Linked DNA regions of Homo sapiens. The protein of the gene in region 2 interacts with the protein of the main gene of each other region in a pairwise test. Each region holds a gene or a part of one and is shown on either strand. Other genes may lie near its edges. The genes, in order: LRRFIP1, OLIG2, GOLGA3 and MCF2L2.

Region 1 (8,300 bases), on a different chromosome or scaffold from region 2:
CATATGTATTTTCTGATTTTTATTTTGTTCTCTCTCAACACCATAGGGAAATAGTTATGAGTATCAAAGATTTTAAGAAAATTATATTATTTTCTGCTGATTGGGAAAAGACACAGTTACTCTACTTAAGAATTAAATATATCACCAAGCTCAGAGAGAGAGATAGTCTTATCTGAGCTTTCATTAGGAACCACTGGAACTAGTTTGTTAATAGCTGAGATCAGATATAATTTCTATTGAGAGTCTCAAGCATGAGTCATGTGTTAAGATAAGTAATGACAGCGGACTGATTCCACGAAGGCTGGGCTTGGATGTTCTTTAGATAGAAAGCAAGGAATACTTTTTTCATACTTTTAGGAATTGTCCAATTTTTCAGAGATTCTGAGAAAAACAGAAAATGTAATGTGTGAGTGTCGTTGTTGTTGTTGTTTTTAACTGGCTATTATCCTCTAAATCCAAAGGGTTAAAACCAAGGTACCCTTGACAACCTTCAGGCCTGCTTCTTCGACTGCTATAGAATTGAGTTGGAAGCTGAAGAACATTTTACGCACAAAGTTCCTTATAGCTGAACTCTGCAAGAGGGGAGCTTTTCACAAGACTGATGTCATGTGGGAACGGAGGAGTGGAGAGCACAGCCCAGCCCCCCTTCGGGTGGGGGCCTGTAATGCATATGCATTCCTCCTGGAATGCTGTCATTAGGCATCATTCAGTGGACTGAAAACTCCCGAGTCTCACTCCAGAGAAGCTGGATGGTGCTAGAATGCTGTCCCGAGATGGACACAGGGGCCATGCAAAGCCCCACAGGAGGGCCCTTGTCATAGCCAGGAGGGCACCAGCCACCCCCAAGCTAAAGGAAGTGGGCGAACAGAAGTGCCAGGGTGAGCAGAAGCTCAGGCCAGATCCCATCTCAGATCACCCGCCTGACAGGTCTAGGGAAGGAGCGTCCTGCAGGCCTGTAAGCTGTCAGCAAAGTGAGTTGGGTCTCAGGCCGTCACCAGGGATTGCGCTGCTGTGACTGGGCAGGAACACAGCAGAGCCGAGCTGCCAGCTTCCTGGGCTGAGCCTCAGGTGGGGAGGCCAGGCCTGAGGAGCAGCTAGGTTTTGCAGGCTCTCCATTTGCTCCCCCAAACTCTCCTGTTTTTGTCTCTTAAGGGGCAGCCCTGAAGCACAGAGCTGGCCACCAGCTGTTCATGAGAGATGCTTTAGTAGGCCATGTTTATCTCCTTTTTATCCCAAAGAGTTTTCCTTGTCATATTTCAGCAGGGGCCATTTTATGGTAAGTCCTTGCAGGGCAGCCTCACCCAGGCTCTCAGCACAGTGCTGTGGAAGACACCAGGCTCCCTGGGGGGGCCCTTCGTCGGCTCTTGCTTCACTGTAGATAAGAAATCAGAAAATCCTTGTTGATTGCATCAACTCCTCAGGTTAATTTGACAGTAAGTCATCAGGCATCATCTATAAAGTCCAGAGGAATCTGTTTGTGTTGTTTGAAAGGGCTTGAAGGCCAGGTGCAGTGGCTCATGCCTGTAATCCCAACACTTTGGGAGGCTGGGGCAGGTGGATCGCTTGAGGTCAAGAGTTTGAGACCAGTTTGGCCAACATGGTGAAACCCGATCTCTACCAAAAATAGAAAAATTAGCCGGGCATGGAGGCAGGCGCCTGTATTCCCAGCTACTTGGGAGGCTGAGGCAGCAGAATCGCTTGAACCCAGGAGGCAGAGGTTGCAGTGAGCTGAGATCGCACCACTGTACTCCAGCCTGGACAACAGAGCAAGACTCCATCTCAAAAAAATATATAAATAAAAAATAAAATAAAAGACCTTGAAGATTGTGATGATGTAGTAGCAGGTGATTTGTTCCACAGAAACTATAAATCGTGAGAGCCTGAACTGGCATGCCAGAAACATGGGATTCCACTGCTTTAGTGCTGTTTTTCTCCTTTACAGGAATTTGAAAGGGAAAAACACGCCCACAGTATACTGCAATTTCAGTTTGCTGAAGTCAAGGAGGCCCTGAAGCAAAGAGAGGAAATGCTCGAGGTAGGTAGCATTCTCCTGCTTTTCTTTTCCTTTTTTCCCTTTGGAGCATTTTGTCAGGCCATGACTATCTTAGCTTAGGCTGCAGTAATAAAATACCATACACAGCATGGCTTAAACAACAGAAATTAATTTTCTTACAATTCTGGAGGCTGGGAGTCCAAGATCAAGGTTGGGTTCAGGTGAGGCCTCTCTTCCTGGCCTGCAGACAGCCACCTTCTTGCTATATCCTTCCTCCAACGGTGGAGAAAAAGCAATGTCTCTGATGTCTCTTCATATAAGGACACTAATCCTATTTGATCAGGACCCCACTCTTATGACCTCATTTAACCTTAATTACTTCGTAAAAACCCTATCTCCAAATACAGTCACATTGGGCATTAGGGCTTCAACAGATGAATTTAGAGGGACACAATTCATTCCATGGCAATTACTAAAGTTTTCAGTTTTCTTAAATCTGAGAGTTTAGGCTAACTCTCCATCCCTAGATTTACGAAACAGTCCCTCTCATTGGTGAACATTCCTATTCTTTGGTGATCTTGTATTTGTTTGGGGAGGTGTGGTAGACAGAATAATGGTCCCCCGAAGTTGCCTACATCCAGATCCCTGGAAACTGTAAATATGATGCCTTACATGGTTAAAGGGCCCCTGCAGTTGTGATGAGAGACCTTGAGAGAAGGGATTATCCTGGATTATTTGATGGAACAAGCATCCTTCTAAGAGGAAGGCAACTCAAAGGCAGAAGTAGAAGATGTGACACAGGAAGCTGAGGTTGGAGCGATGCGAGAGAGGGGCCATGAGCCAAGGAAAGCAGCTCAGTCTTAGAAGCTGAAAAAGGCAGGGAAACAGATTCTCCCTAGAGCCTTCCAGAAAGGCTTGATTTTAGCCCATAAGACTCATTTTGGACTTCTGACCTCTAGAATTGCAAGAGAATAAATTTGTGTTTTAAGCTGCTGAATTTATGACGATTCATTACAATGGCAATAAGAAACTAATACAGGGTTGGTTTTTAATTTTTTGACTTAATCGGTTCTTTAACTGCTGCCTTGAAGTGAGAATTTCACCCAAAGCAGGTTTTCTTCCTGCACTTCTTGAAGCCGGAAGTAGGACAAGGAAAAAAATCCTAGAATGCTGACAATGAGTTCAGGGTTGATGAGGTGAAAGAGTGCTTGCGGCCTCACTCACTGTCCCAGCTCTCAGGTTCTCTCTCGGGCTGGGGTTTTTCTTCCTCTTTAACCCTTTATCTGCTTTCTGTCTGTTCCTTTCCTCAGGAAATCCGACAGCTACAGCAGAAACAGGCGAGTTCTATCAGGGAGATTTCTGATCTTCAGGAAACAATAGAGTGGAAAGACAAAAAGATAGGGGTAGGATTCCCAAGTCTTGAAAATCTACTCAAATGGGCAGCCTGCTTAGCAAATAGAGTTTTTTCAGAGTCTTTAGTTTGCAAAACCGCTTGTCTGAGTATGCATGCAACTCCCACGTGACACAAAGTCGTATTAATTTATTTAATTTTATTAAGTAGTGAATACACTAACTTATCCAAATTGATATGAACTTGGATTGTGACACGGACTCTCCATGGAGGGTCTTGTGAATGCGTAGCTGTGCGCTCTGCCTGCCCCGTGGCTGGGCCGGGCCGGTGGTTGTTGAAACAGCTGGAGTGAGGAGGACACTCTGAGGAGGTCTGATGTGTGCAAGTCCAGACGTCTTGGGATTATCTGCCTGGTGGTGCTTTGAGAAAAAAAATCTAAGCACCACCAGGCAGATATCCCCACTTTGAAATCTTCCCCAGGGAAGGTCTCCACATACCCTTCTCCCTCCACAAGAAGAAAAGAGGCAGTTCTACACTTAGAATTGAAGGATAGGGGGAACAGAACCCCACAAAGTAGTTGTCATGATTGGTAACAACAAATGGTTTCCCCAAAATGGTGATTCCTACACATAGCTCTAATAAAGACGTCGAGATACCTGCACAAACCATCGGCACGTTGACTCAAGCCACACTGTGTTTCCACTGTCACGCTCATCAGCACTTAGGAGTGTGTGTGTGTGTGTGTGTGTCTGCATGCACGCACACTTTAGGACCACTTCATTTATCTGAGATGATGGATACCAAGAATCAGTGTATAAAAATAGTCTAAATGGCTACAACAGCCGTCCTGGGAGGTGCTTAAGCAATCCCTTTTCTTTACTGACCCCTCATTCAAGTGGAGACTTTGCGTAACTCTAACGCAGCTGTGAACACGCAGACAAAGCTAGAAAGTGATGCAAATATAGTAACCTCTGGGGCCCCGTGCTGTGTCCGTGTGCTTCAAGATGCGCATGTCTTTCATGGAGTATGAACAGTAACATTTCTTGGATTATATATACTAAGCGAAAAGCTTAATACTTGGATTTTGTTAGTATCTTTAGGCAGAGTCTCTTTAATGTCTAGAGTCCACTAGTGTTTTAGATGGTAGAAGCCTCCTTCTGGTTCCTGCTTCTGAAGTAACTTGCTCATCTGTGCAAATCTTCTTCTTTCTCTTGGCTCTGCTGCACACTCAGGCATTAGAGAGGCAGAAAGAGTTCTTTGATTCCGTAAGGAGTGAACGGGATGATCTTAGAGAAGAAGTAGTCATGCTGAAAGAGGAATTAAAGGTATGAAGCCAAACTACAGTTTTATTTAAAAAAAAAGAAAAAAAATCCAGGTGACAACAGCAAATTTTGGGATGCTGTGAATATGTGTGTACATAATTCATTTTATGTCATTTAGTTCTGTTAATAATTCATATATTGGGTTAACTGACAGCGATGAGATGTAAAATAAATGTAGGTTCAGTGGGTGGTGCCCAAGGCCTTTTGATGTTAATAAACATAGCCAATCTTGAATGCAAGAATTTTTTGATACATTATCTAAATTTTTCTCATACTCACTAGTAAATTCTCCAGGATATTACTCAGACTTAGAGAATTAATTTGCCTCTTTATATTAAAACCCCCAATTTAAGGACTTCTCTAGAGGAACAGTGACTTGGGTAAGTGGTTTGGGCAAGGATCCCGCTAATTAGACTTTGAGACCTACTAGATTACAGGTGGAAGACGGTTCCCTGTCCTTGGTGGGCCACGCCAAGGCGTCTTCAGCCGCTGCTTGACACAGGTGAAGCGCCAGTGGCAGCACTCTGGGTGGGGGGGTTCCTGAACCGTCACCATCTGCTGCTTGGCCTCCAGGGTCAAAGCCAGAGCAGTGAGCCAGCCAGCTACAGGCTTAGAGCTAAGATTCGTAATTCTGCTCCTTGAAGAGGCGATCAGTTCAGGGGAGTTCCTCACACACAAGGGAGAGAGAGCCACAGGCGGCAGGAGGGCATGGGTGAGTGATGTCTGCAGTTGGGAAGTGCTGCTGTTTTCAGTGAATTCTGTTTCTTTTGAATATACTGAACATTCTAGCCACCTCTGAATTCCTTCTTTAACATAAGTTTCGTGTGTCTCTTTCAGAACATGTATATATTTCTTTCTTTATCTGGTTTCTCTTTTTAAAGAATGCAATCAGGGTTTTGAAATGAAAGGTCACTTGGCAGTGACTTGCTTACTGCTCCACTTGGGGGCAGCCCACAGGCCACTACCTGTAGTTAAAAAGGATGCCTGGTGGAAGTAGCTTGTCACCAGCAAATGAAAGCATGGATTGGAACATCTGAGAAAGAAGTAGCCTTTGGAGGACGATATCCCAGATTTGTGTGTGTTGACCGAATATTTACGAGTGCTGCACCCTAGCATTTCTCTTGTCTCTGTGGAGTTACCCTGTACTTCAGGAAAAAATGGTTTTCTTTTTTATTATTGTATTAAAACAGAGTTTAACCTAATATCACTGAGTAAATATTACGATGAGCCTATTTTTGTTCCCAGAAACATGGAATAATCCTAAATTCAGAAATAGCTACCAATGGAGAGACTTCCGACACCCTCAATAATGTTGGATACCAAGGTCCTACCAAGATGACAAAAGAAGAGTTAAATGCCCTCAAGTCGACAGGGGATGGGACCCTAGGTAAGTATTTGCTTTCCTTCGGCTCCTCACACCTTTCCACTCAGCATTGGTTCACCCTCCATGCACTGCTGGGGTTGGAGCCACCGTCGCTGATGGGTTAACAGTCACCAGCATGCCATTTGTTTCATCACTTCATGGTAATTTCCTTGCCCACCCGGTGTGGTCACCCACGTGTTGTCTGGCATGCATCTCTGTGTAGTGCACCATCAATGGCTCAAGTGAACCTTTTCTTTTGCTGCTCAAAGCTACCAAGCAAGACTGTGAAGGCAAAAGGAAAACAGTCTCAAAATTAAGTAACAATGTGGAGAGTACTATTTGGTTTTCCTCAGACACATATATATCTGTACCTATAAAGTGTGGCTTTTTAAACCGATTCTATGACAGAATTATCAAAAGATCAGAATGGTTGAGGCCGTCAAGTCAGTTGGCCATATTTGCAAGCCAACATCGACATCCTGGGCAGCATTCAGCGCTTTGAGGGTACGGGGTGCCTGTGGACAGCAGGTCCGTCTGTGTTGCCTTTTTCAAGCCACCGCTCGAGGTGGGCAGGCGGCCGTGGTAGTGGGTGTGGCGGTGCTGAGAGTCTGAGTATGCCCACCTTTGTCAGAGGGGATCCTCCTTTGTATGCCACGTGTTTGCTTCTGAAAGAATATAAAACTGGGGAATCCAGTAGATCAGAGGAATATTTTATACCATTTTCAATGATCTGATTTGTCATAATTTGTCATAAGAGTTGGCTTTGGGAGAAACCTTCAGATTCTGGCGTGCAGCCTGAAGTTGCAGCGTGCAAGTGAGGCCTCATCTGTCACTGGTCACCCTCTGCGTTCCAGTGTTTTACAAAGAGGCTGGAATAAGGTCAGGGTCCGTGACTTTTCATTTTAATGTAGAAGCTTTCATCTTATTTCTTTTTATTTATGGAAATGTAGACACCTCCAGGCCCCATCTTCTCAGGCCTCGCATTCCAGGGAGGTACCTCATTCATTATCTTTATGACTATTAAAGAAACACAGCTCTTTTCAATTGTGTAAAAAAAGTTGTGGCCTAGTGCAGTGGCTCACACTTCTAATCCCAGCGCTGCGGGTGGCCAAGGCTGGAGGATCACTTAAGACCAGGAATTCCAGGCCAGCCTGGCAACCTAGCAAGATTCCGTCTCTAGATAGGTATGTAGTATCTATATACCGTTGTTGAGAAAAGATAAATTAATCAATTTCCATCATACCTTTATATGAGCTACCCGAACAGCTAGGAATCTGATTACGCTGCTCTTACTCAAATACACATTTTATAAATCTTTGATAACCATTGTGAAATGTTGTAAGAACCAGAAATGTCAGTTTTGAAAGTGGCCTTCAAATGACTTTTGATCACATATTCCTTCAGCAAAGAATTGTAGGATCCAATATGTATGTTTATTTTAAATCTACATATGTATACTATTTCATTAATATAAAATGTACGTTATAAAATATATGCAAAGATATGCAAAGAAGTTTTAGAGTAAAACTCTAAATAGAATTCCTAATATTTCCCCCATTTTCCCTGGGATATGGGCACCCCACCATGGAGATCACTGGGCTATAAAATTATCTAGCTTTGACTTTCAGTAACATAGTACCATATCTAATCTGCTGGGGTTTTGTTTGGAGAGTCCAAAAATTCCAAAACAGTTTGATGTTCTTTAGACGATGAATAATTTATCATTTAATTTAGTGGTCATCTTGATCTTGAACATTTGCCTCCTGCTGGTCCTCTCTCCCTAGTCCCTTAGGGAATGGAGCAGAGGTATCAGGGCATGGACACAGGGTGTTTTCTCAGGAAAACAATAGTTGAGTGGCAGAAGATAGATTTCCTTTCATATGAGCTATTTCAAAAGCATCTTCCTTGAGACTGACCTTGAGGCTGCATTTCTAAAAGTGCACTGAATATTCTTTTTAAAAATTACTTGAAAGCTGCTTTTAGGGCTGTGTGACATGGAGTGCAGTTTGACAGCTGCAAAAGTACAAGTTGTCAAGTTGTTCATTGAGAAGTGAGAGTGGGGAATTGAACCTTCAGTCTGTTCCTAAACCCATCATTGTGGATTGTTTGGCTGCCTGATCCAGAGTTCTTTCTATTTGTTGAAACTTAACGTCACCTTTAAAAATCTGTCCACACAAGATGGCACCAGCAGCCACTCTGGCCTTTGATGTGGTGGCAGTGGCCCTCACTGACCCAAAATTTACTAATGCAACTGCTGCTTTGCCGCACAGA
Region 2 (8,821 bases):
CTCCCAACCTCAGGTGGTCTGCCCACCTCGGCCTCCCACAGTGCTGGGATTACAGGCTTGAGCCACTGCGCCCCGGCCAGCTCCCAGGTTCTTAAGGAGGGTTGGGGAGTCTCAAAGACCTGGGGCATGGTGAGTTTCTAAACTCGGAGGCTGACAGCTGGGGTGCTGCAGAGCCACGCAGTGGGGCTGGGGAGGAGGCTGAGCTGCAGTCCAGCCTGTTGAGAATCTCCCAACGAATGCTCCCCAGAGGGGACTGCAGTGTGGCAGGGAAGACTGCAGCAGATCCCGGAAACAGTTACCTCTTTCCCTTCCCTACTTGGTGAGGAGCCCACTGCCAATGAAGAGCCCACCAAAGTCAAAGTGGTTGCACACAGTCTTCTCCTGCCCTACATCAAAGCCCAGCCACTGGCTGAGTCCTCTACCTTGGCCCCCACCAGTCCAGGGCCACCCTCGGCGAGTAGCCACCTGTTCTAGGGGATGTGCACTGTGTGCCAGTGTCTTCCTCCTCCACGTCCAGAGCTGCTCCAGTCTCACCCACCGTGGTCAAGGCCTCCAGCTGGGTGCACAGTTTAGGCGGCTGGCATGGAGGAGGGCCCAAAGCCTGGCTGGACACAGCCCCTCCTTCTTCAGAGGCCCTGGTCTTGCCTGGCCTGGCTGGTGGCTGGTTGCTACTGAAAGCTTGGGTGCAGGGGTGGAGGGAAAGACTTGATTTATTGCCTTTCAACAACCGTCCTTCTATGCAGACACCAAGCACACTCAGAGCCTGCACCAGTACACCTGCCTGGCAGTGGGTGTGGAAGAGCCAAAACTGCAATCAAGACCCCTACCCCCACCGGCCAGGTTCTCAGCGCCCACTGGTCTACGTTCCAGCCTCCTGGAGTCCCTCTGAGTGTGTCTGTGGCTGCAGCTGGACCCAGTTTTGAATTCTTTTCAAGTTTCATTTCAAATGGGATTTCAGAATAAAAACGACTACACCCTGCCCTTCCTTCTTCTTGGATTCACATGGCGCTGTTGGGGTGGTGGGGGCAGGAGGCTTTCCACCCGTCTTCAGCCCCCAGCTGCTCAGCCTCTCCAAATCCCTCCCAGCCTTTGCAAAAAGCCAGGCCCATCGGTGAAAAACTAGGCCTCCAGCACCCAATCCCTGGGCCACTGCTGTTCTGGCCAGCAGTCCGACATTCCCTGCTGGAGGAGCAGGAAGTGCCTGTCCCTTGCTAGGGGACGGAGCAGTCTTTAAGTCTAAGCAAAGGGTGCCTGCCTGTGTGAGCCAGGCTCAGCTATGCGACTCAAGAAATGGGGTTCTGACTGGGGAAATCTTCTGCACCCCCAGTTCCAGGGTGGCCAGTGGCCACCAAAAATATTGTCAGAGAGAGGACCCTGGACCAGGGGATGTTCTTACGGTGCCCGTACCCGCTGTCTTTTCAGGGGCTCATTCTCAGGCCAGCCCTGGGGCACGGAGACTACAACAGGATCTGCCCTGGTCCTTGACCAGGAAGGCCAAAGTATTTTTATTTCCACCCAGAATCTCTCTTCACAGCCACATCCTAAATTTGCATCGCGGGTTTGGATTGTGAGAACCCAATGGCCAAGAGGAGACAGAGGTGACCCCAGGAAAGAGCACAGAGGCCAAAGCGCTGCCAGTGCTCCTCCAGAGGTGCGGAGCACCTGATCCTTTGCAGCTCAAGGCGGGGGTGGCCGCTGGGGGAGGGTAGTGGAGATGGCTGAAAAGGAATGGAAGGGTTAGTAGATTCTGCACCAAGCACTCCCCAAGCGCTTTGCTGGGAACGCTACGGCTCCGCAGAATCCAGGTCCGCAGCTGAAGCCAAGGAAACCCGCAGGGGGAAGGTGGTGACGGGAGACCGCCTCTGAGCAGAAAGGAAATAAAAATCTAAAAATCGAGCAGTAGAGGACTCCTGAGAGCCCAGACCCCCAGCCAAAGGCGCAGCCCTCACCCTGCAAGTCCCAAAGTCCGATGCTCCGGGAAGGAAATGTCTGCTTATAAAGGAGCTCAATACTCAACTGAAGAGAAAGGCAGTTCCGGGTTAGGCGTCAGAAAATAAAAATAAGGACAAGCAAGTTGTGAAAAAGACCCGGAGGATTTGCCCGGAACATGTTTGAAAGATAATGCATGTGTGTCTCTAGTGCCAAACTGGGGGAACGATCCCCAAATCCGGTCCCAAGGTATCGCGTCCTGAACCCCTTTTCGGGGTGGCACACGGATGGAAATCCCCCGACTTTACTTTAAATTTTATTTAAAATCTCAACACTCAGTCATTTATTCCGTTTTTGCAACCAAACAAGTAATAAATATTATTTAGCACTTTGTTTTTACAAAAATAAAACAGATGATACACTCTCTGCGAGGGGCGGTGCGATCAGAGGAAGGGTGTTACACGGCAGACGCTACAAAGCCCAGTTTGCAACGCAGGCAGCGCCGAGGCGGCTTGCACGGAACGCAGGAAGCACGTGGAGGAGTTTACCATTTGTGTTAAACGTGGCAAAAATAAACCAAAATAGAGGAAAGCCGGCTTAGACTCCGATGGGGCTGGCAGTCACGTGAGCAAACAGCTTAGCATTGCGCACTTACCTCATCATTGATAAATTTACACATCCAAAAAAGAAAATTTTAAAAAGCCAACAGAACCCCCAAATAACCCAAACTGTTTCCACAGCAACTGCCTTTTAATTCTGTTACGTTCTCAGGTACCAAAATAACCAAATCACTTTGTGCTTAGAGAAGGAAAGATGAGTCGGTGGGGTAGTTTCTATTTTAAAATAATAACTACAATGCACCCGCCCCTGAAATCGGCAGTTTTGGGTTATTCCAATCCACAAGTGGTTCTACTCTGAATGTCTATAAACTTGCTCATACTGTTGAAGAAGGAACATCCACAGATTTATTAGAAAACCATATTCTCCCAAATCAACGAGAGACAGGGAGGAACGGCCACAGTTCTAAGAGGGTGTGGATTGACCCAGATATTGAGATTGGATATGACCATCAGCGCTTCTGATACCGAACGCCGGCTTCCAACTAACTTGTGGCCCCTGGCCTTGGGCCAGGGACGACCCTGGAGGGCGCGGTCGGGCTGTTGCTTCTGCAGTGCGGCTACCCGGAGTCTCCCACCCGCCAAGAAAGGAGGAAGAGGAGCAAGGCCCCAATGTGTCCCCCTCCCATAACACCCCCTCCCCCCCCGAAGTGCTGCCCAAGCCGAGTCTGCAAGTCAGGCCACGCTCTCAGGGAAAGAAGTTTTTAGAATCTTTTCCCGGAGGTGGGGGTCGGGGGTCGGATGAGTTCTAGTGAGGAATGCACACAGCGGTACCTTTTCATAAAACGATGTCTACTGGACCAGCTCAGGTTAAAGCCAGACAGCGCTCGATCAGGTCCCGGAGAGAACATCCCCTCACTCCCCACTGCTCTGTGGGCGCCCCCATTGCTTGGGTTCGCAGATGCTGGAATCCCCACCATGCCCCACCCCCAGTCCATGGTCCTGCGCCCCTCCTCGCGACAGAGCTCCCGAGCCCAGCGCAGGCCAGTCCTCGCTTCCCCGCGGCCCCTGGCTCCCCTGTCGCCAGAACGCGCCGGCGCCAGTCGGCTCACTTGGCGTCGGAGGTGAGGCGCGGCAGGCTGCCGGCGCCCATAGCCGACACGTGGTGGTGCGGCGGCGGCACCTGGCACATGCTGCAGGGGCAGGGCATGCCGCCCCAGTGCTGGAAGCCCCCGCTCGCCCCACTGCCGCCGCCCCCGCCCCCCAGCGGGGCGGCCGCGGCAGCAGACGGAGACTTGAGTAGGCCGTGCGGTGGACGGATGGAGCCGACCGACGGCAGCCCGGATCCGGGCAGAGAGGCGCTGGACACAGCCGCGGCTGCAGCGGCGGCAGCAGCCGCTGCGGCGGCGGGCGGCAGGATGGGGTGGTGCACCGCGGGGTGATGTGCGGCGTGCGCTGCTGCTGCCGGGTGCGCGGTGGCGGCGGGCAGGGGCGCGGAGTGCGCCAGGCCGCCGCAGGCCGACGGGTGGAAGCCAGCGTGGTGGCCCCCGTAGATCTCGCTCACCAGTCGCTTCATCTCCTCCAGCGAGTTGGTGAGCATGAGGATGTAGTTGCGCGCCAGCAGCAGCGTGGCGATCTTGGAAAGCTTGCGCACCGAAGGGCCGTGTGCGTACGGCATGACCTCGCGGAGGCCATCCATGGCGATGTTGAGGTCGTGCATGCGCTTGCGCTCGCGGCTGTTGATCTTGAGACGCAGCTGCTGCAGCTCCGGCTCTGTCATTTGCTTCTTGTCCTTCTTGGTGGACGACGCAGCCGCCGACGACGTAGACGACGAGGTGCTGGACGAGGATGACTTGAAGCCACTGCCTCCTAGCTTGTCCCCAGGATGCGCGCCCGCAGAGCCCATAGCGCCGCGCAGCTCGGCGCTCAGCTCCGGCGGGCAGTCACTCGGGGTGGACGAGGACACGGTGCCCCCAGTGAAGGCGCTGCCGCTGCTGCCCTTACTCCGGGCCGGCAGAAAAAGGTCATCGGGCTCTGGCGACGACGGGCGGCTGGACACCAGGCTGGCGTCCGAGTCCATGGCCCCAGGGGAAGATAGTCGTCGCAGCTTTCGCAGGGTCCTCCTTCCCTCGGACCCGAAAACTTCCAGGAGAGGAGGAGAAAAGAGAGAGAATGAGAGAGAGAGAGAGGGAGAGAGAGAGAGAGTGAGTCAGTGAGAGACAGAAAAGCTGCTCCCGCCTGCACCGCAGTACCACAGCGCGGGGTCCCGGCACAGGTGGCCCGTGGCTCCTCGTCCCCCTCGCTACTATCTCTGGCCCTCCTTTTAGCTGCACGCGGGTACCTATAATTAAGCTCTCTCTATCTCCCCTCTGCTCTCATGCAACAGGTTATTTCAGGGAGCGTTGGTGACCCTCGGGGTGCGGGTGGCATTCTAGAGGCTTCGGGCTTTCAGTTAGGTGTGGGAAAACTGAGCCCCCGGGCTGGAATAAACGAGTGGGAAGTGAGGGCCTTTCTTTGGGGAGAATGGAGATCTAGATAGAGAACTAATGATTTGGTTCCTCAAACGGATCCACCTTATCTCCATCGACACCACGCAGCAAACACACGCACACGCACATGCACCCAGAGCCGGCGCGGGGCCCAGAGTCCATGTGCTGCATCTGGAGACCACGGGGAGCTCACCAGCTGACTGGGGCTTGGGCAGAAAGAGCTGTTGTCGCTCCGACTTCTCGCTTTTGGTGAGGGAGATGCAGCGGTGAGTGTGGGGAGGACAGAAGAGCAAAGTCGCTCTGGAGAAATGGCCCGCAGAGTAGGGATCCAGACCCCCTGTATCGGAGCATTCTGGGTCACAGCCGAGTTGAGGAGAGTCTGTCCCTGGGATCTAGGCTGCGGCTGCTGTGGGGCGGGGACACTTACTCTGGATGCGATTTGAGGAGCTCGCTCCGAAAAGCCTCAGGGGAGAACCTGGCACCGGGCGCTGGTGTCGCGTCGATCTATAATAAGCATCCGCACCTTTAGGGGCTCGGCCGGTTTTTATAGCCCGGTGGCAGCGGCGACGGCGGCAGCGGTGGCGGGGGCGGGGGCGGGGAACAATGTGCGTGTCCTGGAGGGGCTGCCTCGCCAATGAGCTGGGCCCGCCGGGGGGCTGGGAAGCTGATGTCATCCGGGCTAATTCCGCTCAATGAAACTCGCCAGGCCGGGCACACGCCTCCTCCCTGCGCACAACCAATGGGCGCCCGTGGCCGGGAGATTCTTGGGGAGGGACTGGAGGAGGGACCCGAGGAGGCGAGGGGGAGGAGAAGGGCGGCTCAAGGGGGATGGAGGGAGGGCTGAGCGCGCTTGGGACCAAGGGAGAAAGGGAACGTGGTCAAATTTCTGTAAAAAATACGGCCACCACAGAGTCAGGTTGGGGGATGGGATGGTTTGGAGACTCTGCAGAGTCTAACAAACTAACCTGATGCCCCACGCAGCCGCACCTTTTGGGATGCGCGCGGAAAACCCTGGCGACCCAGGATCCGGGGCTGGGGTCTCCTCCCTAGCTCTTCCTCTGTCTGGTTTCCCGCCGCCTGTTCCCATCTCACTGGTTTCATCAACACGTGGGCATTTGGCGCCCCAAATGTAAACGATGCCCAGGCACAAAGTCCCCACTATCTTGGTGCTCTACTCGCGCGTCTAGGAGATGGCCGTGGCTGCAGCTCCGACGGCAGCCGGTAGCGCCCCCAGCTGGGGGCAGGGACTTGAGGGGTAGAGGGCGGGCAAGGAGGGAGGGGACGGACTCCAGAAGAGTGTTTTGAAAGAATTCACAACTCTCCTTTAGGTTGAGGATGGTGTGGGTACAGGGACGAGTTATTTCCGCACGGTAACCGCGCTAGCACAAGGGCAGGGTCGTGCCTGTAGTTAAACACCCCTCCATTTATTAGCAGGGGAGCCGGATGATAGTAAGTATTTTCAGTGTCGTCTTTGTGATCACCACACGCCTTGGGGCAGGGGCAACGCTGGCATCTGTAGTCCAAGCAGGGCTCCGCTGTAAAAGGTTAGCAAAGAGCCTTCCGTCCCAGTCGCCTGCTTTCTGGAACTGCAAAGAGAAGTTTCAGGCCTGGGCAAGGCTTCTCCACGCTGTGGGCCAGACAGCGAGATGGAACCACTCGCGACCGCGTTGGGACATGTTTTACCGATTGCAGGCTGGCTCTGAAACCTGAAAACTCTTGACGATGAGGAATTAAGCCCGAACTGGAGAAGCACCTCACGGAGGTAGCTGAGGTACGGATGCATTCACCCATTTTACAGATGGGAAAAGCCAGAGACCGTGTGCAGCAAGCCTACAGAAAAAATTGCTAAGCCTTTACAGAGCAGCCCTGCTTGGACTACAGATGCTGGCGTTGGCGGTTCCTTATAGTACAGGCAGCCACCTGTCTCCCCCAGTCCCTAATCTCTTCCCCGAGCTGAATTTCTCACACCCATACATTTCGAATTCAGACATTTGTTTCTGCAGATCTCGGATGCTAGCACTTGACACTGTGAGCGCACGCGCGGGCACACACGCACACAGTCTCCTAGGGAGTGTGAGGAACGTCGGGTTACTTCCGTTGTTGGGGAACTTTTACTGTGCAAGTACGGTTTTAAAAACAAGCAAACAAATTAGCATAGTAAATAATTGGTCTTCAAGTAGCAAAGTTACAAAATAAACAAATACAAAGAGAAACCCACGTTATTGCCCCTAGTTCTGAGATATGTCTCCCTCTGCGGTCTCCGCTAGAAGCCCAGCCCGCTCTCGCCTTCGCCCCAGTCTCGTGCCTTCTGGAGCATTATTTTTCAATCCGCGTGTTTCCCAGCTGGCTCTGCAGCCATCCGTTAAATATGTATTTAAAACATGAAGAACTGAAGCGTGGTGTTATGTCGTCCAACGGTTACAAGGATGACCCATAACCGTTCAATTAGTAGAATCTGTCACTCGGACGACGCAGGGAGCGGGGGGGTGGGGATCAGAAAGGGCTCGGGCATTTGTAGATGCCTCCTTCGGGCCTACCCCGCCAACAGCAGCGAGGCCATGTGTGGTGCGCGCTGTGGGGCCACCAGTCGGGGCGCGGAGTTGTGCGCCTGCCAGTGTAGCTAATAAACACCAGCAGGCGCAACGTGCGCGCTCCTTGGTTGCAGCCGCTGAGGTTAGTCCAGCCGCCGGCACGTGTCCCGGAACCCGGTTTCTTTTTTTGTTGCTGCCCACTGGTGTCTGTCCTGCGACCGACTTGCGGCGGTGAGAGCAAGCGGTCTCAGGTTCTTTGCGCGCTCGGTCCAGTGGCTGGAGTTGGGAGTCAGGGGTGAAAGTCGAGGGGCCCGTCTTGGCATGGCGCGAGTCTAGAGCCTGGAAGGCAAAGTCGGAAGCTCTGTGCTGCTGCTGGCCCCTTCTTCACCTGGCAGGCTTCCCTCAACATCCTCCCGTCGCCGGAGTAGCTTGGGAGGTCGGGGAGGTCTGTGTCGCCCCTGGGCTCCCTTGGCCCTGGTGCCAATCGGATGCTGAGTACCTCTCGGTGTGTCTCCTATGCCTCCCCACCCCGTCCCAGGAATAACTAGAAATTAGATCCCGGTGCCCAAGCTTGCCCTGGTGCGTCCTGGAGGCGTCCCCAGGACTTGTCCGGGTCCTGCGCCCGGCGCCCGGGGTGGGCGACCTGGGCGGGTCCCAGGCACTGCGGTTCCCACCAGCGCGCGCAGCTGGGGCCCCTTCCTGGGGAATGGAGTGCTCATTTGCAGAGGCTAATGGGCCCCGGCTCCGGGAGTTCCTGGTTGGCCCCCGCGTCCTGGTGCTGTTGGCCTCCTCCGTGTTTTTCCCTCTTCTTTGTGTTTCTCTCCCACAAAAGACCGGGTGCGTGTCGGGGCCGGCCTTTGTTGGACCGCCGGGCGGCCCGGGAGGAGCCCGTGCCAAACCGGCGGGCTCTCGCGGGGCTCCAGGGCGCAGACCTCCCACTGCTTCCCGGGTCCCTCCCGGGCCTTCTTTCTGATTCTCTCCCTTCCCTTCTCCGAGTTCCTGCTCACATTCAGGCTGCGTCTCGGCCTGGCTGCCAAACAGAACGACGTTCTTGCGCAGAGCTGACCAGGGGTGGCGGCGGGAGGCAAGGCTCCCGGCACCGGAAAGCAAAGCAAAGAAAAAGGCATTGCAGCCATCGCTCCTGGTCGTGAATGACAGCGTTTGGCTACCAAACATGTGCTACATGACCCCTCAGAAGTCAGAACTCTGCAAACAAATGGCGTGTCTTTCTCACAAAACAGCTCATGGAGTCGTCCAGGGTCAGCACGGCTGGTCAGAACCGCGGCTCCCGGGACTGGTCCAGGACAGTTCACGC
Region 3 (3,500 bases), on a different chromosome or scaffold from region 2:
ACTCGCTAGCACCTGAGTGGACCGGGGCGCCTTCGGGGATCCGCAAACCAACTGAGACCACAGAAGCTCAGCTGTTCTCAGCACCGTTCTCTACACTGTGCAGAGGACACAGGCTCAAGGACCAGTCCTGACCAGGCGGCAGGGTGGAAGCTGTCACTGAGGCCTGGCACACACGACTTCCACTCCGTTACCTGCCCTCGGGGCGCCGCCTGGCTCCGCCCTACACACTTCGCTCAGCCTCAGGCTGCCAGGTGCACCATGTGTGGCCTTCCAGCTTCTCAGGGCCTATCAGGGTAGTTTAACTCCAGGCAGTTTCCACCTATGAGTTCACAGGCTGTGTGTGCGAGTTCCCCCACCTTTATATAAACCTCAGAGGCTGTGCGAGTCCCCCTCCCACTTTATATAAACCGCAGAGGCTGTGTGAGTCCCCCTCCCCCTTTATATAAACCTCAGAGGCTGTGCGAGTCCCCCTCCCCCTTTATATAAACCGCAGAGGCTGTGAGTCCCTCCCCCTTTATATAAACCACAGAGGCTGTGCGAGTCCCCCTCCCCCTTTATATAAACCTCAGAGGCTGAGTCCTTCCCCCTTTATATAAACCTCAAAGGCTGTGTGTGCAAGTCCCTCCCTTATATAAACCTCAGAGGCTATGTATGCGAGTCCCCCACCCTTATATAAACCTGCTGAAACTCTGCTGGGCACTCAGTACTGGCACCAGGAGTGCCCTCCCAGGTAAGAGGGCATTAATCTTTAAGACTAGCTGAAGTGCAGCACGGAATACGGTCGTACTTGAGCTGCTGGAGGCAGCTGTTCAGGTTCTTGAGGGGCTCCTTGCTCACGGCGGGCGGTGGTCTCAGCAGCTCCTCCAGCAGCGAGGCGGGAACTGGGCAGTCCGGGATCTTGATGGGCGTGGCAGGGTTGGAAGAGCTGGCCTCGCCTTTCGGCTCCTTTCTCTGTTTTTAAAAGCACATGATCAGCTTTCCCACCGTCCCCTCCCTCGGGTCAGTCTCACTAGCACAGCTTGTGGCAAACGGGCCTCCCCAACTGGTGGACGTGGGGCCTCTGGGAAGGGGACCGTCCTGGCCGCCGTGGCAGCCCAGCACGACAGTCCCCGGAGCTCCAGAATAGCTGGCTGAGGAAACACCTTTATTCCTAAGGCACAAAACCAGAGCAAAGCAGAGACAACCTAAGTCCTGGGTCTGCGGCAGGACGGGGCCGAGCCACAGACTACAGCTCTCCCAGACGCTTCTCCCATCAGATACTCAAGACCTTGATGTGGAATTTCCGTAAGAAATTAAGTAAGTTTTCCAGCTTAGGCTCCCTTTTCTGGGACTTCAAACTTTTTCCACAGATAAGCACACGACGCTAAACGGCCTCTCAATCCGAGCGCTGCCCTCCCACCTGCCTCCTGGAAAACATGGATGTGGACCGAGCACAGAAAACCGCCGGGCGCCTGGGCACAGCTCCCGGGCCCCAGCCCTTCACACACAGCAGGGACTGCCGAGTCACAGACCACCGCTCATCTGCTTTACAAAGCACATTACAACAAAGTGGTATTTGAATTCACAGAACGAGGAAAACACTGTTGGATGAATGAAACCAGAATGAAATGATTTCATCTGTCACCCCATTACCACTGACTACACAGCAGCTGCTCAGTGTGGGCTCAACAAATCCGTTTATGTCTGAATGACTAACACGTCTGCCAGCCTCCTGTCCGAGAGCATCTACAGCGCACGTCGGCTACCCCGGGAGGGACGCGGGCCTGAGTACCGTCTTGGCCGCGCCGCGGCGTAGGTCCAGCTTGAGCTGCTGGTTCTGCTGGAGCAGGGTCTTCATGTTGTTCTTCAGCTCCGACACTTTTGCCTGGAGCATAAATTTATCCTTCTGGGTCATGGACAGGTCTTCCTGGGCCATCTCCAACTCAGACTTGACGTTCTGTGGAAAATGAAGTCAGATTTTTAAAAGCTAACAGATCTTAAACATCCTGCCAAGATCCGAGTTTGTATTTTCATAGGTTAAGCACACACATGTCCTCCTCGGCGCCATCTAGATGATGCCAGTCCAGGTCCAAAATGCTCAGGACCAGAAGTGTGTCAAATTTTGGAATTTTGAATATTTGCGTTACAACTACCAGCTGAGTATCCACAATCCAAAAATTTGAAATGTTCCAATGATCATTTCCTTTATCATGTTGATGCTCAGAAAGTTTCAGATTTTGGATTTTTGTTCTTGTTTTTTTTAGACACAGGGTCTCACTCTGTCATCCAGGCTGGAGTGCAGTGGTCCAACCACAGCTCACTGCCTAAGTGCTGGGACTACAGGTGTGAGCCACCAGGCCTGGCCAGGTTTTGGATTTCTGGATGATGGACGCTTGTCGGCCTGTGTCTATAAATAAATTCTCACTGTAACTCAAGCCCCTCATTTACAAGGGGAACTTAGCAATTACACTCCTTTCCCGAGCAGTCAAGACCGAACCCTGAGTTCTTTGTTGAGAAGTTTATCGCAAATTGGCAAACTTTTCCCACGCACCCTCCCATTTGCTGTAGTCCATGAAATCACGTTCTTGGTCCGTGACACACAGCGCGGCCAAGGGATCGGAGCCGGCCCAGGCTTCGCCCCTGCCTCTGTCCTGCCGCATGACGTGGACCAGGTGGCTTTGCGAGCGCCCCACTGGACGAGGGCGCCAGCTCCCCGGGAGCACTGCCTGGCCGCAGGCCGCATGGCACAGGAACCAGGGGCTGCCCCAGAAGTGGTGCTCCCGCCTGTGTCCAGCACCTCATACACAGGTACCTGCAGCAGCTGCTGTAGCCCCTCCAGCTCCTTCCTCCCTGCTGCTCCCGCCTGTGTCCAGCACCTCATACACAGGTACCTGCAGCAGCTGCTGTAGCCCCTCCAGCTCCTTCCTGCCCTGCTGCTCCCGCCTGTGCCCAGCGCCTCAGATACAGGTACCTGCAGCAGCTGCTGTAGCCCCTCCAGCTCCTTCCTCCCTGCTGCTCCCGCCTGTACCCAGAGCCTCACACAGGTACCCGCAGCAGCTGCTGTAGCCCCTCCAGCTCCTTCCTCCCTGCTGCTCCCGCCTGTACCCAGCGCCTCACACACAGGTACCCGCAGCAGCTGCTGTAGCCCCTCCAGTTCCTTCCTCCCTGCTGCTCCCGCCTGTGCCCAGCGCCTCACACACAGGTACCCGCAGCAGCTGCTGTAGCCCCTCCAGCTCCTTCCTCCCTGCTGCTCCCGCCTGTGCCCAGCGCCTCACACACAGGTACCTGCAGCAGCTGCTGTAGCCCTTCCAGTTCCTTCCTGCCCTGCTGCTCCGTCAAGTCCAGCTGCTGCTTCAAGGACTGGATTTCTCTTTCTTTCTGATCCACCTCCCATTTGAGATTTTCCATCTAAAGAGGGGAAAGTCACATGGCCAAAAGAATATTAAAGTGGCTTTACTGCCCTGGAAAATGGCTCTAGCTGTGTTTTGGTTTATCTTTTAATACCATATTCAGAAAACCAT
Region 4 (7,879 bases), on a different chromosome or scaffold from region 2:
CAGTGCTCTACACGTTCAGAGAAACTTCTCTAGTGACGAACTATAGAAATGATCCCTGAAAGTATAGTCTTAGGACTATATTTTCTTTTGACTTGGGAGGCATGTTTATTGCTGTTAATGCTGCAAAGGGCTCTACGTGCTTTAAAAAATCCCAATCTGTTGCATTCATAAGCCTGGGTTGGATCTAAAGCAGCCTCCCACTTTTGGAAAGGCATCCCCACGACCTTTCCATGGTTGCTGAATGCAGCTGGAGGCAGTCACAGCTGGTGATGTCCGGAGCCCATTCCCCACTGTGCTGGTCTGCAGAACTTCTGCATGCCATTCCCACAAGCAGGTCTCTGCCCTGCTCTCCTCCACCTCCCTTGTCAGAGGAAGTCTGCACTTCACAGCTTTCTGGTCTCAACCCTCCTCCATCCCTACAGATGTGTAAGCAGCAGGAATCAAAAGGTGAAGGAGAGGGGGCAACTCACCTCCGATGGACACGTGAAAAGTGGGAGATGGATAAAATCAAGAAGGAGCTTAAGATATCCAGAAATGTAAACTGTGTTTGGAAAAGTAAGGTCAGGAGAAGCATGGGACTCCTGAGGTTGCTCCCTACTATCTTGCAGACTTGCTGCAGGACCAAATGAAGCAGGATCTGTCAAGCACCAGGGCCAGCTCTTAAGCTTAGTGCCTTTCTGAACCCTGTGACCCAGCAGCCTCCATCAACTCGTCCTACCTGCCATGCACAGCTCCTCTGTGCCCCTGTACCTGAGCTCATGCTATTCCCTCTGCCAGGATGCCCTTCTCCTTCTCCACCAGGAGAAGAACACTTGCCAGTAAGACCCAGTTCTAATGTCACCCCTTCCTGACGGTATCAGGAAGAGTCAGTGATGGTGTTTTATGCTCCCAGAGAATTTGCCACATTGTGTTGTGATTATTTTTCCACATCTGTCTCCCCCACTGGAATGAGAGCCTCACTCATCTTCATACCTCCCTGGTCTCTACCTGGTGCCAGAACCATCCTCAGGGCAGGGGAATGCTCAGGAAATAGATATTGAATAAAATAAGTGTATCCATCCATCCATCCATCCATCCTTCCATCCATCCAGACATATATACATATGTAAACATTCTGATGGTCAAATGGAACAATGTGGGCTGAAGAATAATGCAGGTAGAAGAACCTAAGATTACAGATTCTTGATTTGGGAGGAACTTTATTTTATTGTGCAAACAGTCTACAAATTTGAAACATACTCTATCAAGAAAGACACTGTTGTTAGGAAAGGGCGTGGGAGAGGGTGGCCCCACAAAACAGTGTAAAGTTCTAAAGAATTTGAGAGGAACACTCTGCGGGACCCTGTTCCAAGGGCATCTTTCTAAGAGTCTGTCCCTTAGGCTCTGCCCCTTTTTGGCCACGTTGTCAAAGGCCTTCTTTATGAACGAAGTGAGACACATTATTTTTGTTTTCTTGAATTCTAAAGTGATTGTCTTGAGTTCCCTGGGGGAGACTCCTGGGAGGTGTGGCCCACTCTATTCCAGAAACAAACCAGGAGACTGAAGACTCATCCCAATCCCATATCCCATGAAAATGTGAAATCAAATCACCCCTGACAATTCCAAAACTAACGGAATCCTAACATAACTCTATGTAACTCTAAAGCTGAGTGTGCTGGTAATTAAGCTTCCAGCCCACCCTTCCCAGCTCTGGGGTGCAGGGTCACCATGGGCTCCTTCCTGTGTGCACCCCACCCCACCCCCACTGTCAGCATCCTGTCTCCACCCTGAGAGTGACAGCTGGTTCCAGTAGCGGGAGTTGGTTCCAGCTTGCCATTTTCCTAGCACTCCTATAACCAGCCTGCTGATGCCCATTCAGAGACAGCAGCACGGGCTGGCCATGTCCCCTCTCCAGAATTCTGCGTCCAGCTCCTGGACCTTGAGCTCTGAGCCCTTGGGCCACGTGTACAATTAATAGTGCCTCCTCCTCAGAGGACTAACCCCCAGCCCTAGGGCCACCTTCATATTTCTGAGTTTTGATATTTTCAACCTCTTTTCTTTGTTGTATGAGTCCTTGGGCTGGGAGCTTGCAGTCAAAATCTTCATGATATCTCATTATCACTACTTTTTTTTAAATCTCTACTAGCTGGATAACAATTATTTATATTAAATTCTCTCTTGAAATAACTGATACAGTGTCTCTTGATTGAAACTTGACTAGTAGACTAAGAATTCTAACTCTAAATAATTCTGAGGGCCGGGTGTGGTGGCTCACACCTGTAATCCCAGCACTTTGGGAGGCCAACGCGAATGGATCACCTGAGGTCAGGAGTTGGAGACCAGCCTGGCAAACATGGCGAAACCCGGTCAGGAGATCCAGACCATCCTGGCTAACATGGTGAAACCTCATCTTTACTTAAAAAAAAAAAAAAATACAAAACAAAATTAGCCAGGCGTGGTGGCAGATGCCTGTAGTCCCAGCTATTCAGGAGGCTGAGACAGGAGAATAGCGTGAACCCGGGAGGTGGAGCTTGCAGTGAGCCGAGATTGCACCACTGCACTCCAGCCTGGGTGACAGAGAGAGACTCCGTCTCAACAACAACAACAACAAATTAGCCGGGCATGGTGGCAGGTGCCTGTAATCTCAACTACTTGGGAGGCTGAGGTAGGAGAATTGCTTGAACCCGGGAGGCGGAGGTTGCAGTGAGCCAAGATTGCGGCACTTCACTCCAGCCTGGGTGACAAGAGCAAAACTCCATCTCAAAAAAAAAAAAAAAGAAAAAAAAATCTGACAATTAAATAAAGAACAGAAAAAAAATTTGAATGGCAAATACAAAGCTGAAAAGAAATAACTGAGAATAAATAACTCTGAAAATAGCTCAAAAACTAAATACCTCAAAAACTCTTTAAAAATTCAGAAAATATAATGTTCAAATATGAAGTAATGCTGAAAATGAAATAACTAAAAACCAAGTAACTTGAAAAAAAGAACATAAAAATAAACAACTCAAATATAAAATAACTGAAAATAAATACCTGTGAACATAAGCAACTCGAAAACCAGATAACTAGGGGAAACCCTTCATTAAAACATTTCACTCTGAAAATAAATAACTTGACAGTAGTTCATGAACTTCCAGTGAGTGTTTAATAGTCAAATAAGTTACTGTAAAAATAAATAACTCAAAAACTCCAATAAGATAAAGTGAAATAACTATGAAGGTAAATAACTCAGATAATAATTGTAAAGATAATTAAAAATAAATTCCGGCTGGGCGCGGTGGCTCACGCCTGTAATCCCAGCACTTTGGGAGGCCGAGGCAGGGGGATCACGAGGTCAGGAGATCGAGACCATCCTGGCTAACACGGGGAAACCCCGTCTCTACTAAAAATCCAAATAAAAAATTAGCCGGGCGTGGTGGCGGGCGCCTGTAGTCCCAGCTACTCAGGAGGCTGAGGCAGGAGAATGGCGTGAACCCGGGAGGCGGTTTGCAGTGAGCCGAGATCACACCACTGCACTCCAGCCTGGGCGACAGAGCGAGACTCCGTCTCGAAAAATAAATAAATAAATAAATAAATAAATTCCAAGCAAATTAATTTGAACATCTGTAACTCCTAAAACAAAACAACTACATATAAATAACTGAAAATGAACAACTAAATAACTTTGAAAATAAAGTAACTATAAACCAGTAACTGAAACTATAAAATTAAATAACCAGAAAGCTACAAAGAAATGAAAATCAACTAATAAAACTAAAAATAAAATACAACTGAAACTAACAAAACTCATTTAAAAACTAATAAATCGATACATAAAATACCTCAGAAAGTAACTTGGAACGAACTCTCTCTACAACGAAGCAATCTTGGCACTAACACGAACACCCCATGAACGCTCGCAGGGATGCTGGGAGGCGGACCGGGAGCTCCCAGTCTGCGGCCCCCGCCGGGTTGGAGCGGCTCCGGCTCCTCCAAGGCTCGGGCTAAGCGGCTCTCAACCGATTCCCACCCCGCCCTGGAGAAATGCGGGCGTGTCTGCAGGCATTTTTGATTGTCACGATTTGGGGGCGGGGTGGAGGATGGGGTGGCGCATTCCTGGCACCTAGTGGGTAGAGGCCAGGGGTGCTACTAAACATCCTACCGTGGGAGCACAGAGAAGCCCACGCAGCAAAGAATTGCCCGGCTCCGAATATCGAAGTGCGCGGTCGAGAAGGCGTGGGCTGCGGGCTCTGCTCGCCTCTGCAGGCGCCTTAGAGCAGCTCCGAGGTCCCCCGTGCGGAGCTAGGCGCGCACCCAGGACACCCCTCGGGCTCCTCGGAGGAGGCCCTGGTTGTCCCCTTTCTGCCGCCGCCGAGGCTCCGGCTGCTTTCTGCGTAGCTGGGCAGGGCCCGGGCCCCCACACCGCCTCTCCCGGGAATGCGGGCGCTCTGGAGCCGAGGAGCGGGGGCGTCCGCAGGGAGGTCAGCTCTCCTGGGCGGAGGTCCTCGGGCGCAGCGCCCTCGCCTGGAAACCAGCCGTCGCCCCCGCAGGAGCCAGCCGGCCCGTGGACGCCCCAGCGCGCTCCTCCTCGGTGCTGCGGGTCGCCCTGCAATTCCGAGAAGAAAGTCAGAGACGCCGTGGCCCAAAGAGGCGCTTAGTCTTTCCTCGCTCACACTCACGTTTCCTCCTCATCGCGTTCTTCTTTTTCTCCCTGGCTGCTTTCTCCCCTCTCCAGGAAAGCAGATTTGGAGGAACAGGTTTCGTGACTGTCGTCCGACTGGAAAAGGCCCGCGAGCTGGAAGGGAGGGGACGGGTGCACCCTCAGAGTTATTGCTGGAGGCTGTGGCCAGACCGGGCAAGGTGGTGACTCCCGCTGGCAGGCTGAGGCCCACCCCAGCCCTCCCACCTGGGCCACGGGGCTCTCAGCGGGAGCCCCAGTTATGACCGGACACCAGCGCACCGCCAAGGAGACAGCCACGTGGGGACATGCTGGACTAGGAGGGTCAGAGCCAGTTTGAGGGTCTGGTGACCTCGGCTCCCTGGCTTAACCAGGTCCTTATGGGTGAGAATCCTGAGGAGGGGGAGAGGGATGGAGGCTAGGGACAGGAGGCAGGAGGAGCTGATGAATAGGAAGGAGGGAAGAAGATGAAAGAAACAAAAGGGAAGTAATTACACTCAGAGCACTGCTCTCCTTTTCCATGTCTTCTGCGCCTTCACAGTCTTCAAAGGTGTCCATGGAGCTAAACTCCCTGCTGGAGCAGCCTTAGGGAGAGAAAGGGAAGGATGGGGCCTCTGTGGGGTGGGAGGACATCCCCTCTGCCCATGGCAGGGTGTAGCAGGCAGTGCCTGTTGCAGGCACGGTCCTCCCCATCTCTAACTCCTGCTCTCCAAGGGCCTGCACTGCGCTGGGCTGTGAGGGGGTCTGTGATCTCCAGGCTGCTTTTCCAGCGCCGAGATGCCGTAATTCACCGAGAAGGCGCGTCCACATGCTGTTCATGGCCCTACCTCCCCGTTCCTCCAAGAAAACAGTCATTGTTTTTTGTGTTTGCCAGTCTTCTAACCACGCCTCCTTCCCTTCCTCCTCCCCTGTCTCTTTCTCACCCTCCCCTCCTTGCCTCCTTTTCTCTCCCCTAATTAATGTCCATTTCCCATCTCCCTGGCAGCCTCTGCCAAGTGTCACTGCTCCCCATAAGGGAAAATCAGAGGAACAAGCAAGTGCATCCATCCTGCCTCTCTCTGCAGTGAACTGATTAATTAATCCATCAGTCTTGTCTATGGCGCACATGTTACATCCCTGGGGCGGTGTTGGACACTGTGGGGAACAGCAGCCACTGCCAAATACTGAACAACTGCCCTGTGCCTGGTGGTATGTTAGGCATTTGTCAAAGTTTAAGCCTCACAACCCTGTAAGGGTCTCAGCCCCCTTTACAGTTGGGGAAACAGACAGCAATGGTCACTTGGCCAAGTCCTCTTGGCCTGTGGCAGGGCAGCTGTCTTCTCCAGCACTCCTGCTCTTTACCCTCGCTCTGAGTGAGATGGAGTCTCTGCCCCACATGGCTCACAAGCCAGGGTAGGGAGCAGAGCATCTGCAGAAAGGTCCCAACACAGGACAGCCCCAGACCGAGGGTCAGCTGAGTAGTCTACGCGGCGGGAGCCGTGCTAGGAAAGTGTCTGCTCAGGCGAGAATTCAGGGAGGTTTGGGCAGGACTTGAGGGGCAGACAGGACTGGAGAGGGAGGGCATTCTGGGCAGAGGCATGGCCAGAGGGCGGTAGGCGGCAGTGGAGGGAGCTGCAGTTATCTGGGTGAGCAGGCAGCACAAGTAGCGTCTCCTGGGCTGCTGCCCCAAGCCCCCAACAAGCCACGTTCTGGGCCCCAGGCCCTCCCCAGAGCAGATCAGTGGGGGCTGTGTGAGTAACATGGGGGCGGGGGGGCAGCTGGGCAGCACCTCCCTGGAGGCCCCTCTGAAATCCTGCCTGACTCTGGCAGGCTCCGAGGGGGCTGGACACCCTCCTCTCAGGTTGAAGCAAGTCCTGGTTGAGTTCCTAGTCCCAGGAGGTGGGAGGGGCAAGGGGTGGAGGGCAGAGGAGAAACTGCCTCAGGGATGTGCCCCCTGCCTTCATCCTCCAGACAGGACTTGGGAGCATCTAAGGAAACCCAAGACTCCTCTTTAGAGAAGTCATCCAGCCCTGGGGTCCCCTTATGCCAGGAGCAAGCAGTGAGAATGGAAGAATGATTGTCTTGCTGAAAGTTCTGTGATGGAGGGATAGAGGGACAGAGGGAGCCATGCCCTTGACCATCCCCTGCATGAATAGGAAGGGCTGTGTCTCCAGGGTCCATGGCCTCTGTGCCCCGGATGATGCCAGGGCTGCTAGGGACCATAGAGCCACCCACTGGGAGGCTGGCGGTTGGGCCTGGCTCAGGAGCCTTCGTCAGCCATAGGCAGCCACAGCCTGGGGTGGGCAGGGCTGGGAGGCGACACAGGAACTGAAAAACCTGACAAGCTCTAGCCCCTCCGCAGGGTAAGTGGTACCTCCAGGTAAAATGATTAGTTGGTTCCAGCCCCTCTGCAGGGTAAGTGGCACCTGGGGTAAAATGACTGCCTGGAGCTGGCAGCTGCTTTCCCTGCTCTCGCGGGCCCTGCAGGGAAGCGGGGAAGGGAAGGGGGCACAGCGCTGGGCACAGAGGGGCTCTCAGACCCTGGACTCAACTGTTTCAGGGTCATCTGAAACAGTCAACTGTTTCCTCTAGCCCATTCCCTGCCTCCAGGCGAGGATTTGCCTGAACGTGGAAAGAGGAAGGATCCTCCCAGTGCTGTCAACCCCAGATTCCACCTCCCTGTGGGGGACTGTCAGCGCAGGCCCTGACAACGCAGAGAAAGACACAGGACCCACCTGGGCCAGTGACAGCAGGAGCTCCGGGTGCCACAGGTGAGGGTGGGGATGCCTGGAGCACCACGGGGGGCCTGGTTTAGTCTAGAGCCAGGTTTTCCATACACCTTAGAGTGCAACCTCAGGGAGATGCAAATTTTACCCCCTAACACAGCATACACGCAGAAACACATTTATACAATTCAAACACAAGCGGACGGAACAATATTTACCCTTAGAGTGTGTGAAGTCCTCATCTGTCCCACCTCATCCTATCATGCTTTGTTCTATCCTAGGAGACAAAGCAGGAGGGGGGGCTGCGGAGGTGGGGGAGTCTCATCCAAGCCCTTGGGTGACACGTCTCTCCTGAGACAAACTGCAGCTGCTCTGGGTGTGCCCTCGCCTGTCTCCCTCCAGGCCCCGGGTTCCTGCCAGCAGAGACAGTAACCTATTCACCAGGTATCCCCCAGGGCTCCTGGAAGAAACTCAGAATTCTCAGAACCAGAAAACCTTAGAGAGCATCCTGCAGGCAAAGCCCCTGGTTCTCTGC

What was found.
Region 1: the proteins of OLIG2 (region 2) and LRRFIP1 interact in a two-hybrid assay, tested with the Homo sapiens proteins (one large-scale study listed by BioGRID and IntAct).
Region 3: the proteins of OLIG2 (region 2) and GOLGA3 interact in a two-hybrid assay, tested with the Homo sapiens proteins (one large-scale study listed by BioGRID and IntAct).
Region 4: the proteins of OLIG2 (region 2) and MCF2L2 interact in a two-hybrid assay, tested with the Homo sapiens proteins (one large-scale study listed by BioGRID and IntAct).

The regions. Positions count from the first base shown.
Region 1 is NC_000002.12:237,754,153-237,762,452, forward strand, and holds part of LRRFIP1 (leucine-rich repeat flightless-interacting protein 1), read left to right. Parts: intron 1-1,942; coding exon 1,943-2,035; intron 2,036-3,303; coding exon 3,304-3,396; intron 3,397-4,576; coding exon 4,577-4,669; intron 4,670-5,911; coding exon 5,912-6,053; intron 6,054-8,300.
Region 2 is NC_000021.9:33,022,608-33,031,428, reverse strand, and holds OLIG2 (oligodendrocyte transcription factor 2), read right to left. Parts: upstream 5,495-8,821; 5' UTR 5,403-5,494; intron 5,394-5,402; exon of another isoform or gene 5,169-5,393; intron 4,629-5,168; 5' UTR 4,567-4,628; coding exon 3,595-4,566; 3' UTR 2,244-3,594; downstream 1-2,243. UniProt on the Homo sapiens protein: Required for oligodendrocyte and motor neuron specification in the spinal cord, as well as for the development of somatic motor neurons in the hindbrain. Functions together with ZNF488 to promote oligodendrocyte differentiation.
Region 3 is NC_000012.12:132,773,370-132,776,869, forward strand, and holds part of GOLGA3 (golgin subfamily A member 3), read right to left. Parts: intron 3,388-3,500; coding exon 3,265-3,387; intron 1,937-3,264; coding exon 1,772-1,936; intron 952-1,771; coding exon 788-951; intron 1-787. UniProt on the Homo sapiens protein: Golgi auto-antigen; probably involved in maintaining Golgi structure.
Region 4 is NC_000003.12:183,174,937-183,182,815, forward strand, and holds the end of MCF2L2 (probable guanine nucleotide exchange factor MCF2L2), read right to left. Parts: intron 5,224-7,879; coding exon 5,135-5,223; intron 4,757-5,134; coding exon 4,641-4,756; intron 4,568-4,640; coding exon 4,444-4,567; 3' UTR 3,105-4,443; downstream 1-3,104. UniProt on the Homo sapiens protein: Probably functions as a guanine nucleotide exchange factor.